Homo sapiens: one gene and its partner. The protein of the gene in region 1 interacts with the protein of each later gene in a pairwise test. Each region holds a gene or a part of one and is shown in the gene's direction. Other genes may lie near its edges.

Region 1 (7,251 bases):
CCTGGGGGCTGCCCAGGGCCCTGAGTGGGATCCTCCGCTGCCCAGGGACGTCAAGGATCTGGCCGCCCTCAGGGTGCAACTGCGGGAGCAGCACCTCTACTACCAGGACCAGCTGCTGCCGGTCAGCAGGATCATCGTGCACCCACAGTTCTACACCGCCCAGATCGGAGCGGACATCGCCCTGCTGGAGCTGGAGGAGCCGGTGAACGTCTCCAGCCACGTCCACACGGTCACCCTGCCCCCTGCCTCAGAGACCTTCCCCCCGGGGATGCCGTGCTGGGTCACTGGCTGGGGCGATGTGGACAATGATGGTGGGTCTGGGGACAGTGGAGGTGGGGCCAGGGTCTTAGCCACAGCCCAGCCCCTGGGCTCCCTCTGGGCTCCAGGTGGGGGTTGCCCGGCCCCCTCCTGAGGCTGCACCCTCTTCCCCACCTGCAGAGCGCCTCCCACCGCCATTTCCTCTGAAGCAGGTGAAGGTCCCCATAATGGAAAACCACATTTGTGACGCAAAATACCACCTTGGCGCCTACACGGGAGACGACGTCCGCATCGTCCGTGACGACATGCTGTGTGCCGGGAACACCCGGAGGGACTCATGCCAGGTGGGCCCCGCCTGTCCCCCGCCCCCCGCCCCCCAACCCCCACTCCCAGGCCTGTTCGGCGAGCGCTGACCTCTGACCTTCCCAGGGCGACTCCGGAGGGCCCCTGGTGTGCAAGGTGAATGGCACCTGGCTGCAGGCGGGCGTGGTCAGCTGGGGCGAGGGCTGTGCCCAGCCCAACCGGCCTGGCATCTACACCCGTGTCACCTACTACTTGGACTGGATCCACCACTATGTCCCCAAAAAGCCGTGAGTCAGGCCTGGGGTGTCCACCTGGGTCACTGGAGAGCCAGCCCCTCCTGTTCAAAACACCACTGCTTCCTACCCAGGTGGCGACTGCCCCCCACACCTTCCCTGCCCCGTCCTGAGTGCCCCTTCCTGTCCTAAGCCCCCTGCTCTCTTCTGAGCCCCTTCCCCTGTCCTGAGGACCCTTCCCCATCCTGAGCCCCCTTCCCTGTCCTAAGCCTGACGCCTGCACCGGGCCCTCCGGCCCTCCCCTGCCCAGGCAGCTGGTGGTGGGCGCTAATCCTCCTGAGTGCTGGACCTCATTAAAGTGCATGGAAATCACTGGTGTGCATCGCTGTGTTTCTGGTTGTGGATGTCACTGGGAGAGAAGGGGTCCAGGTGTGCTGAGGACACCTGCCACAGTGTGAGGTCCTAGCCCTCAAGGCACAGCCAGTCACCGTGGGACGGGGCCTCCTGGGCAGCCCTGGTCCCCGAGGCTGGCTTCTCCCCACACGATGCATCCAGCATTCGGGTCACACAGAGCCACTCGGGCAACTCAGTTGATTATAAAGGACAGCCAGGTCCCTGCAACCGGGTCAAGACAGAGAATGGTCACCGGGAGCCCCAGGGCTGCCCATCACGAGCCCCTACCCCACGCTTCCCACGAGCTCTTCTCCCGGCCCCTCCGTCCACTGCTTGTGCTTTGCCTAGTTGTTTGCTTTGAGACGGGATCTCGCTGTGTCATCCAGGCTGAAGTGCAGTGGTGTGATCAGGGCTCACTGCAGCCTTAACTCCTGGGCTCAAGCGATCCTCCCATCTTGGCCTCCCATATAGCTGGGCCACAGGAGTGAGCCACCACGCCCAGTTAATTTTTGTATTTTCAGTAGAGATGGGGTTTCGCCATGTTGGCCAGTCTGGTCTCGAACTCCTGACCTCAAGTGATCCGCCCGCCTCGGCCTCCCAAAGTGCTGGGATGACAGGCGTGAGCCACCGCACCCGGCCTGAGTTTGACATTTTCAAATTCATTTTGAGGTCTTTCTCTACATCAATAGGTGAGCCCTCTGCGTCTGGCGAGTGTTGCATTTTATCCCGGGCTCTTGTTTGCATTTTATATTTGAACATGATTACACTCAGGAATGAAATGCGGGGCTGTTCTGGTTGAAAACAACTCTCTAAAGAAACATTCACTCTTTCCTTCCAACTGTTAGATGCAGAGATGTGCATTTAGTCTCCCGAATCTCTGCAAATGACCTCTGTCCTCACAAGGGGTGGACTCAACTCCCAGTGCCCTCTCCAGCCCCACGTGACCTCTGCCTCTGCAGCCCCTGAAGGCCCATCCCTCGGCTCCTGTTCTGCAGGCCCAGCGTCTTGTTAATGAAGATGGACCTGGAACTCGGGCCCTTCTTCCTCCCTCTGGCCCATCCCACCTTCTAGGGATCACAGAGACAGCACGGGGTGACCCCCAGGGAACACTGAGCCCCTAGAAGCACTTCCACACGCCCACTGGAGGTTTTGCGGGGTGGGAGTCGGAGGGATGAGACCCCGAAGGGAAGCAAGACGGCCCCTCAGGACAGGGCTGCCGGTGTAAGGAAAGGTGGACAGCAGGGGCCGGTCACTGGGTGGAGGGGGAGGGCGGGCTCCAGCCCCAGAGCTTCCCAAATTAGATCTAAGATCCCTGGGAAGCTCAGTGAAGCTCAGCCCAGTGACACTGGCAGATGTGAGCGTCAGCTTCAGCAGGAAGGGTCTCTCAGGACGTGGCAGGCAGGCTGCTGGCCAGGGCTGCAGCCACCTGCGTTTTGACTGGGACGGGGGCACCTGCTCCAAGGTCACCCACGTGGCTGCCGGCAGGAGGCCCTGGTTCCCCGTCACAGGGGGGTGTGAGGCGGAGGGCGAGTGGGGGGGACAGGGTTCCCACCGAGGGGACGGCACCCAGGTGGCCAGGCCACCGCAGACAGAAGCAATCCCAGGTCTCCCAGGGTCCTGGACAACAGGAGACCCCACCAAGCTGGGGGCAATCACCAGGGCCAGGCCCCCCTCCCGGTTCCTCAGTTGGCTCTCCTGTCCAATGGTGGGGGTGAACGGCACCATGTCACAGGACTGCTGGGGCTCAGGGGATGGTGCCTGAAGCTTCTTCCTCCCCAGCAGGCCTGCAATCTGGGTCGTGTGGAGCACTCTGCGGGGAGTGGCGTGCTGGGGCACAGGCAGAAAGACGGGGTCCCCAGTGCTGCAGGTGAATTGAGTTGGGACAGGTGAGGGCCCTGAAGTCCCCACCTGTGGGGACCTGGGGACAGCCCTAGAGGTCAGGACTAGAGGACCTGGTTCCATGAAGACCCTGCCCCTCAGGCTCCCTCCCCACTGGGTGACATCGCCCTGTTAGGGGCACCCTGGGCCGGGGACTCGTGGCTCAGACCCCGCTCCCTTGTGTGGGGTGGGACTGTCCTGCCTCCCCTGAGGCGCCCCCTCCAGGTGTGCGGCTGCCGTGAGGGAGGAGGGTGCCCGGCCGTGGGTGCACTGCTGGCCCCGCATGCTGGTGTTGTCCTTATTGGTCACCAGGAAAAACACTGAACCTCCAGTTCTGAGCCTTGGCTACCCCACGTGCTGGCGTGCAGGCGGCCACGTCTGTGCCTGGGAGGCCACATCCTGGTGGGTGGTCAGGCAACTCCCCCCAACCCGTGGCTGAGTTTCCCCACATCAAAGAGGGGATCCCTGACCTAGAAGGTCTCAGCTGGACCCTCCAGCCTGGCCTGTGATTTGGATCTGGGGAGGGCGGCAGGAAAGTCCCGGGCGCTGCCCAGGGCCCCTAATCAGCTGAGTCATCAGGCTGGGGCAGCCAGGACGGTTAGGAAGGGCCAACCCAGGCTGGGCCGTGAAGTGGTGCCCATCTGATCTGCCGCACGAGCACAGGACCTGCTGCCGGACGTGGGGACAGGGACTTCTCAAAGAGTGGTTGTCACGAGGGCCTGAGCTGTCTCCAAAGGGCTGCTGGGCCTTGAGTTGGGACCCTCCTGAAGAACCCCCAGGACTGGGCTCCCAGAGGATGAAGGAGAGGGGGTGGCGTGCCCCGAGGGAACCAGGGAGTAATTTTTGGAGGGGGCGGCACTCAGAGGAACACTCACCCCTCCCTCAGCCCTGGCCCCGGAGCAGAGACAAGGTGAGAAGTACTTTTGCCTTCTGTCCTTCCCCGCTTTCCCTTGACGGAGCCGGCCACTTGGTGCCAGGGCTGTGGCGTCCACACAGGGATAAATGGAGGTGACGACCCTTCTCTGAGGTGCAGAAGGAACAGGTGGGGCCGTCTGTGGAGCTCCGGCCTCCTCCTCCGTCCTCCCGCCCTGCCTGACAGCAGGTGTGTGGCCACCCCTATCCCCCACGCCCAGCAGGTCCAAGGGTCAGGCTGGCCCTCCTTCTCCCTACAGTGGGCAGACACCATGGCCCTTGGGGCCTGTGGCCTCCTGCTGCTCCTGGCTGTGCCCGGTGGGTGACCTGGCCTGGGTGTGGGGATGGGGGGGCATCTGCTTCCTGCCTGGACCCCTGATGGGGGTGAAACTGGGGGCTGGTCTGAGACGGAGAAACATGCTGAGTCCCCACCCTGTGGGGCCCCGTGTCTCCTCTGAAGAGACTGCACCCCTGGCTGGAGGCCCAGCTGTCCGTGCTGGGGAGAGGCAGGAGGGATGTGCGGGTGGGAGTTGGGGGTGCAGGAGTTGGCAGGGCGGGTGGTAGTTGGGGGTGCGGGTGGGAGTTGGGGGTGCCAGGAGTCCCAGGCCCTAGAACACTGGTGATTTCTTTCCTGAGCAGGACCTGGAGGGCGGGGAGGAGGCCCAGGCCTGAGGCCAAGCTCCCGGCCTCCAGCTGCCGTTTATGGCCTGTGGCTTGTCCCACCCAGCCCTGGGCCAGTGAGACAGCAGTTGACCCAGCCTCACCAGGCCGGGCCCCTCTGCTCAGGACCAGGCCCCACCCCAGTGCCGCCCTGAGGCCTGGCAGGGGCCTCTGGAGCCCGCACACCCCTCTCCTTGGCAGCCCCCTCCATCCTGGGCCCTTCGTCTTTCCCACAGGTGTGTCCCTCAGGACTTTGCAGCCAGGTACGTCTCTGACAGGTGTGGGGTGTGGGGGAGGGTGCAGGCAAGGCCTGGCAGGAGGGCCTCGGTGACCCTCTCCTTCCCTGGGGTCCCAATGGGGGCCCGGGGAGGTCATAGTTTGTCGCCGTGGTTTCTGCTCGCATCTCTCGGTTGAGTGGGGCTGGTCGGGGTGTGCTGCAGGGCTGTCTCCCCCACCACCACTGTAGTCAGTCTGTACCTTGGGAGATGCTCTGAGGCCATGAAACAACCTGGCCCTCCTCGAACTTTCTCCCCACAGCGTCCCCACCGTGGCCCTGGAACCAGCTGGGGGCTTTGCCGTGTGGGAGAGCCGGTGCCCCACCCCACACCCGCTGCCTATCTATAAACATCTCTGTCTGTCTACATCCCAGCTTCCCTTCCATTCAGCCCAGTGGCCACACTCCATCACCAGCACAATTATCCAGCTCAGGCAGACCCAGGTGTGGCCAGTGGGTCTCCAGCTGACTTCCTCTTAATTTCTTCTTAACTTACTGAGGTGAAGTTTACAGAAGATAAAGTTACATTATCAAGCGTCCAATTCAGAGGCCCCGAGCACCTTGGACAGTGCTGTCTGCCCCCCGCCCCCCGAATTTTATCCAGCTTCGAATATCTCCACCACCCCTGAAGGAAAACCGGGGCCCACTAGGCAGCCACCCCCAGCACCCCGGGCCTTCTCGGGGGCTCCACCGTTCTGAGCCCCTTTCTAGCCGCCTAGGGGCCCTCTGCAGCCTTTCCACCGCCTCCGGGAGCCCTGGTTAGTTTGTGGAGCATGGTGCTTAGAAAGGACGACCTGAGCCCCAGGCGCGCTCACTGCTCCTGAGACGTCATTTCTGCTGCACCCACGATGCTTCTGGGGAGAGTCTGGCAGACGAGAGAGCTGAAGAGCAAAGTCCCCAAGAAGGCAGGGAGGTGTGGTCAGGGAAGGCTTCATGGAGGAAGTGCAGTGGGTTTCTTGGGATCCCCACCAGGCACCCCTTCCTCCTTCGACTTAGGGTGTGGCCGGCCGCAGGTTTCGGATGCAGGCGGCCGGATCGTGGGGGGTCACGCTGCCCCGGCCGGCGCATGGCCATGGCAGGCCAGCCTCCGCCTGCGGAGGGTGCACGTGTGCGGCGGGTCACTGCTCAGCCCCCAGTGGGTGCTCACAGCTGCCCACTGCTTCTCCGGGTGAGTGTCCGGGTGGGCAGGGGCAGTCTCAATGTCCAGGCCCCAGTGGGGCATGCGCCAGCGCAGAGGCCTCCACTTGGTCTTGACTCACTCCGAGGCTTGGGAACTCTGAGCCTACTTCCTTCCAATGGAAAGGGAGGAGCTGGTTGCCCACCTTCTGTGAGGTTCTGCAGCTCTTTGCTCACCTCTAGGGATGGACAGCTCCCTCCCTCCTTCCCTCCCCTCGGTCTCTTCACGTGGAGCTGAGCTTGCAATCTGCCTCCTGACCAGCCCCTGCTGGTGTCGGGCATGCTGCTGGCTTTTCCAGGGGCTGGCAGGAACCCCAAGGTGCTGCCGTGGTCCTTGGGCCCTGCAGGGTGAGGCCACTGCCCAGGCTTTCTGCGTCCCAAGCCTAGGAGGGAAGAGCTGGGCTTCGGATGCCTGCAAGGGTAGGGTCTGGGCGGGGCCGACACTGACCTCCAGCCTCCGCAGCTGGCCCCTCTCACCCAGCCACCTTCCCTCCCAGGTCCCTGAACTCATCCGACTACCAGGTGCACCTGGGGGAACTGGAGATCACTCTGTCTCCCCACTTCTCCACCGTGAGGCAGATCATCCTGCACTCCAGCCCCTCAGGACAGCCGGGGACCAGCGGGGACATCGCCCTGGTGGAGCTCAGTGTCCCCGTGACCCTCTCCAGCCGGATCCTGCCCGTCTGCCTCCCGGAGGCCTCAGATGACTTCTGCCCTGGGATCCGGTGCTGGGTGACCGGCTGGGGCTATACGCGGGAGGGAGGTGAGGAGCCCCCGTGGGGATGCTGGGATGGAGGAAGGCAAGGGCGGCAGGAAGAGAGCTGGCTTGAGGGATGCTGATGCTACCACCTGCTCCTGGTGGCTTCCACACCCAGCCAAGGCCGCCCCTATCGGCTGTCCCTTTTCAAAGCCTGTCGTGTGGATCCAAAGCAGCAGCCAAACGTCAGATCACAACCCACGTGCCGTGACGAGGGTCGTGGTGGCATGGGACTTGTGTCTGGCAAGGTCTCCCATCCCCCCAGTGCAGGGCCTGGTGCCCCAACCTTCTCTGAAGCCTGTTCCCCCCACCCCAGAGCCTCTGCCACCCCCGTACAGCCTGCGGGAGGTGAAAGTCTCCGTGGTGGACACAGAGACCTGCCGCCGGGACTATCCCGGCCCCGGGGG
Region 2 (7,271 bases), on another chromosome or scaffold:
AGTCAAAACCCCAGAAGAACAGAGATTTGCCCAAACTCCAGCCAATGACCCATTTATTTCCAACAAGCCCTCCTAGAGATAGATTCTAAGTGAAATACAAGAACGTGGACACACTCCGTCCCCTTTCTGGCCACAGGGCTGTGCAGAATTAGAAGTGCAGTCTATGGAAGGACAAGGACTGGACTTCGCTTGGTGCAAACGCCCCAGCCAGGCGCCCCATACTCACCTAGCACCATTTCACCCTGGAGCTGTTTCCTCCTGTTGAAGCGCTGGTGCTCACACCCCCTACCTTCAGGGCTCTGCAAGCACAGTTCCAAGGTCTGCAGCGCGGGTACAGTGCATGCCCTGCTGAGTGTGCGTCAGAGCAGTTGTCTCCCTGTGACACTTATTCTAAGACCCTTTTTGCTACTCATAAGTGGTAGAGTACCACACTCACTCATGAACCAGTGATAATCCAGGGTACTAACGGGGGCCCCGGAGTTTATTTGGCACCGAAGATTAAGCTACTTGGCAGCTGAATTTTTATCTAGATTGGGGTTAGGTTTGTATTAAAATTTTGCATTCCAGCAAGCCCTAAACCGTGCTTGTTCATTGTGGGATAATGCGTTCAACTGATGAGTTGCCAGGCCAGGATTGATGGGGGATTATGTGTATTCTGCTAGTTTGTCAGCACCTGATGTCACTGTGCTGGGGGGTGGGGGAGGCATGTTTGGAGTTAGGATGAGCAGACACTTGTAGATTTTAATCACACTCTACTTTGGGGCTCCCTGCTCTCCTATGGTAGCAGGGGGTTTCTGTGTCGTTCTTATGTCCTCATGTAAAGCTGCACATCTGTGAATGTCAGGTAGCTCTTGTGCTTTTCCCCTTAGATTGAGTTTCTAATCTGGGAATGACAGAGGGTGGCTGTATATGGAGACAGCAGCATGGGCTTAGGGGCTCTTTTGGTGCCAGTTACCCTACGGAAAAAAGGTTTCTTCAAATCACTTTCTACAAAGACTAAAAAATGGTTGGAATCTAGTGGTGCAGATTGTAATATGACTTCAGGTAATCAATACGGTTTGACAGGTGGAACATTTCTTAGATGCTGATGAGCAGGGCGCAAGTCTCAAGATTTTTAAATCATCTGAAAAGCACAGTAAATCCTTTAAAGAGCCCTACCTTGGCCATGTTGTTTCAAGTAAAATTGAATTTCAGAGGCAAAGCTTCACATCGGAGGCATGACGAACTAAAGAAATCCTTCCCAGAGACCTCCACTCTCTTCCTGTTGCCACCCTCCTCTGCCAGCAGCAGGGCAGGAAAGATGACTTCTTGGGGCTGTGTGCCTTTACCTTAAGAAGCAAGTGCACCCTGAATGCTTCTAATCCCGCAGCTGGGTTGTCTGGGTATTTGGATCTTTTTGGTGCTTGAGGTACTACCCAAGTTGGCAGGAAGCCAGGAGCCTGGGGGTGGAGGTGTCTTAGCCCCACCTGTGGCATGAGACAAGAGGTCTTCTCCAGCAAGGGATGGGTCTCTGACCCTTGGCTAAGAAAACTCAGGATTGTTAAATACGTACTGCATGGATAAGGTTGCTGTGACCCTGAAAAAAGGAAGAAGGCTTTTGGGTGGTGCGTGGTTCTCCTCTTGGAAGTCTTCCCAGATTTCGCCTCAGTACTCTCTTGCCCTAGCTTAAATCTTTCCTTGCTCTGTGTCCCCTTAGGCAAGTGAGGTCTCCTCTCAGGTAGGCATGATATTAAGTGCATGTCTAGAGGACAGTTCCTTCTACCTGCCCAGGTGCACTGGCTGAACTCACCTATGCCCACATCTGTGCATTGGCAGGTGATATAGATATACACCTGAGCTGTCCCCCTGAGCTGCAGACCTAACACTAGGTGTGGGCTCCGAGCTGTTCCACATCAAAACAGAGCCGAGGACACATCTCCCTCACTGAAGCTGTGTCTCCTACCTATTATGGTCAACACGTCTCATCTACTCATTTGTTAAAGCTAGAAATCTCTGGAGAGTTTTGGAGCTCTTTCTCTGTCTTCACTTGAAATCTCTGGAGAGTTTTGGAGCTCTTTGTCTGTCTTCACTTTGCCATCTAATTGGGTCAGCCCTCTCTGAGGGCTCACACCCACTCTTCCGGCACAGCGGAGCCTTATCTGCCCTTGGCCCAGAGAATGCTTCCAGTTCCTTCACTCCAGCCACACCGGCAGCACTTCCCAGTTTAAAACGCAGATTTCATCATCCCACTGTCTTCTGCCTCCCCAACCCCACCAAACCTTGGTTTGTTCTCTTAACGCAGTAAGTGCTTCTGATACCTACTGTGTGCCTTGGACCAAGCTGGAGTCTGAGAAGGTTGGGCCCAGGCATCCTCCCTACCTGTGCAGAGTTTAAGGTCTTGGGCTGGGGGTTGTATGTGGGGTACCTATCAAATAAGACCAGGGAGCGTGAAGTGCTATGGAGGGGAGCTCCTACCCCAGTATAGGGGGCTCCCTGGAGAAGCACCCTCTAAGCTGATACCTGGGAGAGTTGGGGGTGCAGGGGAGGGGTTGGAGTTGGGGCTGGATTGTTCGATGCCTTTCTTCTGTCTCACCCAGACTTCCTTATCTGCTAAACTCCTACTCATTTTTGTTTTAATTAATACCAAGATAGAATTTATCTCTCATAAAGCATGCCCATTCTAAGTGTACAGTTTAATGATTTTCAGTAAATTAATAGAGTTCATAGCCATTACCACAATCCAGTTTTGGAACATATCCATCACCCCAGAAAGATCCCTCTTTTGTACAAACTCCCTGTCCCCGTCCTCAAGCCGCCAGTCCCCCACAGATTTGCTTTCTGTCTCTAGATTTGCCTTTTCTTTCTATGTTTCTTAGTGTGTTTTCATAGGTTCGGCCCAAGAGCTGTTTCATTTGGGCCTTCCTAGAGTCTTCTAGTTAGAATCAATTTATCCCCCAGCACCGACGAAGTGAGCTGGGTGCTTGGCCATCCCGCTGCTAGATGGCGAGCTCTCTTACCTGCCTCTCCTGCCTGCACCTGGCTCAGCACTGGCACCTACAGAATACCCAAGGTGTGTTGGCTGGACCAGCTGAAGTTGTGTTCCTCACATTTCTTTTGTATAACTCCTGAGTATCTAGCAGAGTGTGGGGATTTAAAATACAGCGCATGTATTGATGTGTCAGGTGATGTGAGCCCTGCTACATACATACCTTAACTTGTTTCATCAAGAACTTGTGAGGCAAATGGCAAATCAAAAACAAAAACAAACAAAACAAAACAAAACAAATCTATTTTCTAAGCCAGGCACAGTGGCTCTTGTCTGTAGTTCCAGCTACTAGGGGGTGCTGAGGTGGGAGGATTGCTTGAAATCAGGGATTTGAGCCTGGGCAATATTGTGAGACCCTGCTTCTTAACAAACTTTTTTTTTTTGAGATAGGGTCTTGCTCTGTTGCCCAGGCTGGAGTGCAGTGATGTGATCCCAGCTCACTGCAGCCTTGAACTCCTGGGCCCAAGCAATCCCCCTGCCATAGTCTCCTGAGTAGCTAGGACTACAGGTACACACCACCATGCCTGCTGATTTTTAAATTTTTTGTGGAGACGAGGTCTTGCTATGTTGCCCAGACTGGTCTTGAGCTCCCGGGCTCAAATAATCCTCCAGCCTTGGCCTCTCAAAGTGCTGGAATTATAAGTGTGAACTACTGTGCCTCAGCCCAAGCCATTTTTCTAAATGAAAAAACTGAGGAGGCCCAGAGCAAATAAGTAGCCCAAGGGCATCAGCAGAAAGTAGAAGGATCAAGAATTAAACGAGGTCACTTTCTCTTCCGCCCTTGTTTTGGTAGTAATGATATGCCCTTTTATGGCCTTGCCTGGGCTGGTGTTCAGATTTTCCTGTACGAGTCTTGTCATCCCTTCCTAAGCCATGGAAGCTCCTTCTAGGGCATGAGTGCTGTGTGACACATGTTCACACAGTGTTGCCCCAGTACCTACCTAGTCCACAACTGAACAGGTAGAGATGGTTCAAGCAATGTGTGTGTGTAGAGAGGTCTCCTGGTAAATAGAAGGGGCTGGGGGAGGGCGTTGAATGCAGTGGTGCTGTGGCCTTGGGTGGCTTGGTGCATTTCTGATGCATTTCTCACCTTGGATCATTTTCACTCTTTGAGGAAGAGAGCAGAGGATGAGATGCCATTTGACAGATGCACAAACCAAGACACAGAAATTGTATACCCATTGTACGCCAGGTAGATCACAAATGACCGTTCTCTCCCATGGTTGTAGAGAACTCTCATGGTGGACAGAAACCATGAAAGAAATCATGGTGGAAAGAACCAAGACATTCTTGAATCGGAGTATTAGAACCTCATTTGCAAAATACCTTGGAAAGATCAGGGACACTGGGGTTTGAATTGTAGTCTTTGCTCTGTTGTTTATTGGCTGGTGATGGTCTCTGAATCTGTTTGCTCAGGTGCAGAAAGGGGTTTTAGGCTGAGCTCAGATATTGACAGGAACTACAATTCAAACCCAGGTCTGCAGATGTGGCAGACTGGGTTTGAACTGTAGTCTTTGCTCTGTTTACTGGCTGGTGATGTTCTCTGAGTCTGTTTGGTCATGTGCAGAAAGGGGTTCTAGGCGCAGCTCAGACGTAGATGGGGACGCAGATGTGAGTACCTAGGTGAGTCTGGCTGGTCACGTGTGGAATAAGTGGTGGTGGCTGCCATTACTCTTTAAGCATTCTTGGATCTAGTGCCTCCTCTGCCACTGAGTACAGAATTCCTTTTCAAATTCGGGCTTATGAGGCATGTTTTGATCCAGGCTGTCGTAGCAAGGGATTTGATGCTGGAGTCTGTGACTGCTGTGCGTGTGGAGGCTTCCGGAAGGCAGCCAGTGCTGGTTACTGCTTGGAGTTTGGGGAGCTGCCATTTTGGATTGTCCTAGCCTCATGCCTTCTGAGAAGCATCTGTCAGGGTCCCTGATGCACCTACAGAGACCCTGAGCTTGGTGGTGGGGGTTGCACAGAGAGAGCTGCAGGTTGTTCCTCAGGCATAACGAGGCCCGGAGCTGGTGGTCCCCTCCCTCTGTGAGTGTGTGCAGAGCATGGATCGGGTCTGGGAGTGTTCGTGCTGGCAGGCCGGAGGAGGACTGCTGGGCACACTTGCAGAATTGCGGTTCTGTACAGCAGTGTGTATCGACTGCAGCGCTCTTTTTCTCTAGCAGCAAAATGCTCAGCTCTCTGCCTTCTTTCTGTGCATTTAACAGACGTTTCCAGAAAGCAGAATTGATGACAGCCCCAACTCCTCCCTTTCACTCCCATCTTTTCTATTTGCTGCCCTGTAATCAATTTTTGGAGAGAAGTGAGAACCTCTCGAAATCGATCACCTATGTTGAAAAAAAATCATTTTTAACATCATGCAGTTTTCCGTATTTACTGTGTGTGGCTGGAGACACTCCTGGCAGAATGAGTGTGGGATGTAGGAGGTCCAGAAAAGCCCCCAGCTTCAGGGGCTGAGATAGGGCCATGGGTGGCAGAACTGGTTGTCCCCCCGCCCCCCAATCCCTCAGCAGTGGTTGAGGTGTGCTTTATTAGAAACTCTTCAGTCATGCAGTTTGGAGCCCGTGCTGGTGATGCAGCCTGGATGCCTGGCAGGGGCTTAGCCTCCAGGGGTGGGACATGAGATGTGGCTGCCGTGGCTTCTCTGTGTCTTTCTTCCCAGCGAGTAAAGGTAGACGCAGGGCTCTGGCAGGTGCTAAGGCCCTGCTTGCCTTCATGCTGGAATGCTGGCAGGTACAATTTATTCTTATTTCTTAGGAGGTGCTTTCCCCTCTTCTTTCTGAAGACATCCAGGGATAAAGAATTGCTGCTTTTATGAGCACATGTTCTTGGTGATATGCTGTTACCTTATCTAAAAACAATACGGCCTGGCTGATTATTCTCAGAGCTCATTGTAAGGTGAAAGGTTATGCATTTGAGAATTATTTTCACAGTGTGGATGGGAGTGGGGGGAGAAGATGTAGAGCACAGGTAAGGAATTCCAGGTTTTGGGGCCAGGGATCGCCAAGCAGTGTAAAGGGCTCACTGTGGCCTGTAGCTCCTTCCCCCTGTGGTTTGTGCTGGGCCAGTTGCTGGCTCCCCAAAACCATTATCACCATTATCATTATCACTATCATATCCATCACCTCACCATCATTATCACTGACATCATCACTTTTCTCCATCACCATCATCATCATCATCACTATCATCCCCATCCCCATCATCATCATTACCATCATCATTGCTGTCGCTATCATCATCATCATTCCATTCATCACCATTCATCATCACTGTCATCATCACCATCATCATCACTGTCATCACCATCACCACCACCATCATCACCATCGCCATCATCACTGTTATCGTCACCATTCATCATCACTGTCATCATCATCGTCATCACTATCATCCCCACCATCACCACCATCATTATCACCATTCTCCATCACCATCATCACTATCATCCTCACCATCATCACCATTCTCCATCACCATCATCATCATCACTATCATCCCCACCATCATCACCATCACCATCATCATCACTGTCATCATCAACATCCATCATCACTGTCATCACCATCATCATCACTATCATTACCATCACCATCACCACCATTATCACTGTCATCATCACCTTTCTCCATCACCATCATCATCATCATCATATCATCATCATCATCATCATATCATCCTCATCCCCATCATCATCACCATCACCACCGTCATTGCTGTCATCATCACCATTCACCATCAATGTCGTCATCACCATCATCATCACTATCATCATTATCACCATCATCACCATCACCATCATCATTACTGTCATCATCACCATTCACCGTCACTATCATCACTGTCATTATCACCATCATCATCACCACCACCATCACCATCATCACTGTCATCCCCATCCTCATCATCATCACCATCACTGTCATCATCATCACCATCACCACCATTGCCATCACCATCACCATCATTATCACTGTCATCATCACCTTTCTCCATCACCATCATCATCATCATCATCACTATCATCCCCATCCCCATCATCATCACCATCACCACCATCATTGCTGTCATCACCATTCACCATCACTGTCATCATCACCATCATCGTCATTATCATCATTGTCACCATCGTCACCATCACCGTCATCATCACCATTCATCATCACTGTCATCACTGTCATTATCACCATCATCATCACCACCACCACCATCACCATCACTATCATCGTCATCATCATCACTGTCA

Evidence for each region.
Region 2: the proteins of TPSG1 (region 1) and HPCAL1 interact in binary tests that used the Homo sapiens proteins (3 or more experiments, as listed by UniProt).

What each region holds. Positions count from the first base shown.
Region 1 is NC_000016.10:1,222,251-1,229,501, reverse strand, and holds the start of TPSG1 (tryptase gamma preproprotein), read left to right. Parts: upstream 1-4,249; coding exon 4,250-4,295; intron 4,296-4,873; coding exon 4,874-4,900; intron 4,901-5,907; coding exon 5,908-6,079; intron 6,080-6,584; coding exon 6,585-6,850; intron 6,851-7,160; coding exon 7,161-7,251. Other genes in the region: TPSB2 (tryptase beta-2 preproprotein), read left to right, coding at 46-311, 439-602, 688-852; uncharacterized protein LOC124903621, read right to left, coding at 2,262-3,048, 3,941-4,251.
Region 2 is NC_000002.12:10,305,645-10,312,915, forward strand, and holds part of HPCAL1 (hippocalcin-like protein 1), read left to right. Parts: intron 1-6,058; exon of another isoform or gene 6,059-7,271. UniProt on the Homo sapiens protein: May be involved in the calcium-dependent regulation of rhodopsin phosphorylation.